Regions from separate parts of the Homo sapiens genome. Here region 2 is reported to be linked to region 1. Evidence: microRNA targets listed by miRTarBase, many of them from high-throughput screens and not tested one by one. Region 1 holds a microRNA gene; the other region holds the end of a gene's coding sequence.
What was found. Region 1 holds the annotated microRNA hsa-miR-4662a-5p (UUAGCCAAUUGUCCAUCUUUAG, at 1,374-1,395, shown strand). A microRNA usually pairs through its seed, bases 2 to 8, with sites in the 3' UTR of a target mRNA and lowers its output. Matches are read on the target gene's strand: a 7mer-m8 pairs with bases 2 to 8, a 7mer-A1 pairs with bases 2 to 7 and ends in A, and an 8mer does both.

Region 1 (3,415 bases):
TTACATCTAAGTCTGTGATCTATGTTAATTTTTGTATAAAGTTTTAAAGTATGAGACTTAAGTTAAAACAAGAGATTTTGTTTTGTTTTGTTTTTTGCTCCAACACCACTTGTTGAAAAGAGTTTCCTTCCTTCATTCACTCGCTTTTGCACTTTTGGTATTTTTGGTAAAAAATCAGTTGAGTATATTTTTGTGGGTCTATTTCTGAGTCCTCTATTCTGTTTCATTGATTTGTGGGTTTATCTCTCCACCAATATCATACTACCTTGGCAACTGTAGCTATATAGTGAGACTTAACACAAGGTAGAGTGCTTCCTCCTACTTTTTAAAATAGTTATCACAGCTATTTTATTTTCAAAATTTTTGCCTCCCATACAAATTTTAGAATAAGCTTGGCTTTGTCTACAAAATCTTTTTGGGATTTTGATAAGAATTGTGTTAAACTATTGATAATTTGGGAAGAATTGACATCTCCACTATGATGAGTCTTCCAGTCTATGAACATGGTATTTCTCCTCATTTATGTAGGTCTTTATTTTTTCATCAGCATTTTGTAATTTTCATCAGAGACATAGTATATGTATTTATACCTAAGTATTTTATTTTCTTTGAAGTGATTGTAAATGGTATTGTTTTTAATTTCAGTTTCCCCATGTTCATTGACAGGATAAACAAATGCATTTGATTTTTGAGTGTTGATCATGTATTCTGTGACCTTACTTAATTCACTTATTAATTCTAGGAGGTTTATTTTAGTTTATGTTTTTTAGATTCTTTAGGATTGTATAAATAGACAATCATGTTATCTGCAAATAGAGATGATTTTATTTCTTTCTTTTCAATCTGTATGTCTTGTATTTCTTTTTCTTGCTATATTGCACTGGCTAGAACTTCTACTACCCTGTTGAAGAAGATGTTGAAAGCAGACATCTTTGTCTTATTCCCAATCTCAGTGGGAAGACGTTCAGTTGGCACCATTAAGTATGATGTTAGATGTTTTTTTTTTTTTGTAAATGCTTTTTCACAAATTGAGATATTTTTCGTCTGTTCCTACTTCAGTGAGTTTTTTTGAAAAATAGGGATCATACTTTGCTTTCACAGGATTGCTGTGATGATTCTAGGTGAAACATAAGTAAAAGTTTATGGCTGTTGTGGGCCCTCAAATAAGGTTTAGAAAAACAACCTTTGGACAACATTAAGGCGAGTCATTACAACTTAAAGTGAAACCTTCTGTAGACAAATGATCTCACATCTTCACTTCTAGGTATCTCTTCTGAAGAAACATTGGCTCATGTCCCAGAGATTTATATACAAGGAAGTTTACTGCAACCATGGCTGCAACAGAAAAAGCCATTGTGTACCACAGTGTCTATTTAGCCAATTGTCCATCTTTAGCTATTCTGAATGCCTAAAGATAGACAATTGGCTAAATAGAAATTGTGGTACATCCATACAATGGAATACCATGAAGCCATCGACAAAACATCAAGATTCTATTGACCAACATGGAAAGAGTGCCATGGATGGGCACGGTGGCTCACACCTGTAATCCCAGCACTTTGGGAGGCCAAGATGGTTATATCACCTGAGGTCAGGAGTTTGAGACTAGCCTGGCCAACATGGCGAAACCCTGTCTCTACTAAAAATACAAAAATTAGGTGGGCATGGAGGCAGGCACCTGTAATCCCAGCTACTCAGGAGTCTGAGGCAGGAGAATCGCTTGAATCTGGGAGGTGGAGGTTGCAGTGAGCTGAGATTGTGCCATTGCACTCCAGCCTGGGCAACAAGAGCAAAATCTCAAAAAGAAAAAAAAAAGAGAGAGAAAAAGTGCCAAGACACAAGGTTAGGTGAACAAAGGAAGTCTCAAAACAGAACAATTTGATTTTATATTTATAAATGGCATAATATATAAATATGGCTTATAAATTTATACTTATATCTACATACATATAGTATATAAGTATGTATTTTTAAAACCCAGTCATATATTGTAAACACATTCCTAAGTGCATAGAAAAAGGCCTAGAAGGACTTGACACTCATTTGTTAACATCGGACATCCTTCGGGAAATGAATGGGATTGGGTAGAGTACAAAGGGGTACAAAAGATCACTTTAAAAAACTTTATAAATATATTTGGTCTTTAAAACATTTTTTTACAATGATAATGTTTATATTTACTATCTGTTTACCTAAATAAGACTCAGGTAGTATGGGGCAGGGAGTAGCAATTTCTAGTGGTAAAATTTCAGACAATTGTTTTCCATAGTCACTGGGACCCAGAATTCCTGAGCTCTCTTTGTTCTATTGCTGGCTGCAATATTAGTTGTATGATTTTGGACAAGTCACTTTCTCTCTCTGGGCCTCAGATTCCTCTTGTAATGAGGAGATTAAACTAGAGTACCCATGGATAAGCATTTTTATTATTCACATTTAAGCATCTGACCTCTCTTTGCAAATAGGTTTTTGTATGTGGAACCTTTATGTATACAACAGAAGAAAGCATGTCAACAACCCAACTATTTGTACCCCGGATCCATTTCAGCACTAACGTTTTCTGACTGGAGTTGAAGGCAGTGAACCCAAAGCCACCCGTCAGAACTATACTGCCCCTCAGCTGAGTGAAAAATAACTGGGTGATTTCAAGTGACCCACAGAAGCTCAGGAGTGACAGTTGCTCTCATAAAATGTGTTCCCTGAGCATTAAGCCCTGGTGTTGGCAGGGTCTGATAGCTCAGGGACTGTTTGAGCTCCAAGGAGATCATTACTGTTTCTAGAGAGTTCTATGAGGACCCTGGGTCTTTGGAAGAACTATCCATTTGTGGTTTTTAGGAGAATCAGGTCCTAGATCACTGAAGCCACAGCCCATGGCCCAGAGCTGTAGCTTTACTGCTTTGGGGCTGCAGCAGGGAGGCGAGGCCACCTGGGGAAGCTGAGGGCAAGAGTAGAGGTCAAGTGCAACACACAGCATGCTGTGAAATATGAGAAAGGCTCATAGTGTCTTTTCTTTGAAATGAAAAGCGCCATCTCGAGTTCTGTGGAATTGGGTCCAGCCTTCCTTGGCTATAACAGGCATGATAAGGATCATTTTGCCTCCTTTAGGAGCAGGGCTAGATGTCCTACAATTCTCTGCATTAGTTGAGCCCATGGACAGTAACAGCCATAGTCTGAGATATAAAAAAAAAAACAGCACATCGCCCAGAAAAAAGCCTGGGCCCTGTGCTTTTGGGATTCTATTCGCACGTGTTTCGGACTGGCAAGACTCAAACCCAGAAAGAGGGACTCCCTGAGAGGGGAAAGGCGGACGTGCAGGGCCACTCTGGCCTAAGTCTTCTCTGTGGATCGAAGCAGAAGGTAGGAAGCCGGTGTTTTATACCTCCCTGCCTTTCCCTGCCCATTTGTGGGATGGAGAGCT
Region 2 (3,415 bases), not on the chromosome of region 1:
GGACTTGAAAATCCAGCTTTATCATGACATGAGTTGGCTTAAGCCAGCTGATCACATCTAAAATTCTTGGCATAATTTGAACCTAAAGTAATGAGCTCACTTCCCCAAGATGCAAAAAAGTAGTCTACCTGCTTTATAGTTACACCCTATATATAATCTGTATATATCCATATGTTTCTATATATTGCACTTAAATTTACAGGACTGTAGTAAGACGGCTGGGAGTACCTCAAAGAGGCAGAGAAGCAGCAGGCATAAACTTTCCTAAATCAAGTAAACAGTGTCAGGAATTCCGAGTGCTGGTTATAGGTATACCGAAACGCCTGATGACCCCTATCTAATTTCTAGTTATCTACACTTAGTCATTTACACACAGTCTCATTTGGCATCCAGAACATGTACACATGTGTGGTTCTATAGCACTCAGTGCTGGTCATACCATGTCATTTTTACTAGTGTTATATTAAAAGAAGACACTTTAGACCAAGGATATATACTTTTATGAAAATAAAACACACAGGTCTTCGATGTCAGGCCTCCAAGGTCTACCTCAAAGAAGACTGCCCTCAGAAGGCTTAACAAAGGATGCCAGCAAGTATGGATGGAACCAGACCACATCTCTCTTCAGCTCTCTGGTGTAGCAGGGCTAGAGACTCACTTCTATCCTAAGGACCATGAAAGTCTAAGCACAGAGGCTGAGCATTCAGTCTTTGGTCCCTGTATAAATCCAGGTCAAAAATCCTCTTGCCACCCTGGACAGCCTGGCTTGTTCAATTTAGAATATATTTCCACCAAATATCCAGAGGCCAGGCTGAAGTCATGCAGCAAAGCTCTGTTTTGGACTAATGGAGCTGCTCAGACTGACTTGCTCTGGGAGAGAACGGAGGAGCAAGCCTGGCAGTGGTGGCAGGAGGTTAAGTGCTACACAGACTGGTAATGGCAAGATGTGGGAGGATGGGCCCCTAGAGGAGCTGCTCCTTTTTCTGCCTCTCTCCCACATTCCTCACTCCCCAGAAAGGACCCACGTTCACAGGTGCGTGGTTATTATAAGACTTCCCAGAATACAGGCTCCATGAACTCAACCCATCACAGAGGGGATGGTATGATAAGGCCTAGAAATCAGGAGCATGTCTGGAGGCTACGGTTTTCTCTTTCCCAGAACTGAACACCAGATGGTAGCTTTTTAACCGTAGCTCAAAGGTCATTTTAAATCCACACATAAGCTAAAGAGATCCCTTCTGAGATGAAGGACAAAGAATAACTTTAAAAGCTAGGTGAAAAAAGAGGCACTTAAAGGAAAGATGTGTTCCAACTCTCCCATGCGAGTCTCCTGCTGTGAGTTGGCCCCGGGAGGACCAGCGCTGCCCCTTGCACGCCTTCAGCACCTTGAGTACACCTGCGGCTTACACATGCGCATGGTGAGCCTCTTGCTCAGCTCCCCTAGCAGCCAGATGGCAAAGCGAGTGAAAATTTATGTCATTCTTTTTAGAATTAAAAAAAAAACAAATCAAACAAACCAGAACTAAAATTTCACACACACAAAATGAATGCTACTCAGTTTCATTCCTTCCTCATGCTAGTTTTTAAATGATACTTGGTTCTTCAGGAAGGATGACCTGTGGCTTTACCCCCAAGACCTTGTATCCAATTACTAGACAATTATTCACAGCACCATGCACATTAAAGCAGACGGAAAAGAAGGCAACAAGCTAAGGGAAAAATCAAGGACCAACTGCCTGAGAAAATGGCAGGTACCTGGCCCAGAGATTAGAAAAGAAACAAGTTCTCAAAAGGAAATGGCCAAGATGATAGCCAAAGACCACAGCCCGAGTGGAAGCCAAGTTAACAAGCCCAGAGGATGCAGGTTTTCTCTGCCTGGCTCTTCTCTGGCCTCCCTCGGGAGCTTGTGTTCATGTTACATGGCATTTACACCACATACTTAGGGTCTACAATTCCCCATGAAGAAGTCAAAGAGATATTTAAAACCATTAATAAGCATAAGAGAGTTTCAAAACTGCCAGAATGAAGAACTTTGGCCACCACAAGTTTTTCCGTTTGAAACATTCTTGGTGCCATAATTTCTAAGAGCAACAACAAAGAGCACGACCACGACACACACGTAAGTCTTTTGACAAACCAACTCTAACCACTGCTGGCACCATGAGGATGAGAAAGAAATCACTAACCAAGAGTTGCTGGGCTGCTTAACCTTCCTTCAAAGCCAAAGGGTAGGTTTGAGTTATCTGTGCAACAAGATGGCAAGCACTGCTGCCATCAGACCCAGCTACTACTCAGTTAGACACATCTTGAAAACACTAAGTTAAACATCTAGGTTTAAGTATAACCTGCAAGATTCCCAAGGTTAGCCTTCTCAGCTTCCCCTAAATTTGTGGTTGTTGCTGTTGCTAGATGTAAAAATTTTTTAATTTCATTTTTCTTTATGTTGATGATGTTTTAATTTCTAGAATATTGTATGACATGGAACTATTCAGAATTCCTTTAAAAAGGAATCTGTCTTGATTAATAACATTATTAAGGTACTTTCAGGCTTTCCCTTAACTCCATCGAGAAGGAAGAGGGAGTATGTGAGTACATGTGCATGTAATGGGTCAGGAGGAACAGAAGCAAAGAAGGAAGCACGTGGGAAAGTGAGATGTCCATAAACTGAAAAACCAATTTACAGAAAGGCATCTGATGTATTTTCTAAATAAGGCCTTGATCAGGGTAACCAATCCTCTTTGTAGCACATTCTACACTGCCCATAAATAAAGGAGTCTCTTTAAATTAACATTTCCAGTATCAATGAACAGTCCAGAAATCCTCATTTCAAGCGTTCGATGAGTCCCTGTGTGAGTCCAAGGTGCAGAAGTTGTGTTCGGGAGAGGTTTGCAAGGTTAGGGAAGGCCGCAAGCAGCTTCTCCCATGCCAGTTCCAGCAGGCTAGGTACCACCAGCCAGATCTTAAACAATGACCCAGTCCGTTTGTTTTCATGGATGTTCACCACTCCTCCATGAATGTACATGCAACCAGCCTATGAGTAGTCAAAAGAGGACAAATTCAAACGGGAGAGAAACATACAAGGCTGAAGACTCAGTGGGGAAAAAGCATAGTAGATGGAATCAAAATGAAATGAAACAAGAATTCCTCACTGATCCCAATACCATGTGGAGATCAAGAGGGTTTAAATAATTAATGAATTACTAAGGGAAAAACTATATATATATATATATGATTTTTTTTTTTTTTGAGACAGAGTCTCACTCTGTCGCCCAGGCTGGAGTGCAGTGGCGCAATTTCAGCTCACTGCAAGCTCTCCGCCTCCCGGGTTCACGCCATTCTCCTGCTTCAGCCTCCAGAGTAGCTGGGAATACAGGCACGCGCCACCACGTCCGGCTAATTTTTTTTTGTATTTTTA

Region 2: the mRNA of KLHDC10 is a reported target of hsa-miR-4662a-5p. Seed matches in the 3' UTR shown: 7mer-m8 at 1,810-1,816.

Annotation. Positions count from the first base shown.
Region 1 is chr8:124,820,617-124,824,031 of GRCh38, forward strand. It overlaps MIR4662A (microRNA 4662a), which reads left to right and starts at 1,369; the gene lies at 1,369-1,435. It overlaps MIR4662B (microRNA 4662b), which reads right to left and starts at 1,442; the gene lies at 1,362-1,442.
Region 2 is chr7:130,130,153-130,133,567 of GRCh38, reverse strand. It overlaps KLHDC10 (kelch domain containing 10), which reads right to left. Exons shown (of 10, transcript NM_014997.4): 10 at 1-3,031. The coding sequence ends at 2,822. Among named protein-coding and RNA genes, the nearest start is that of LINC03008, 9.9 kb to the left of the region's middle.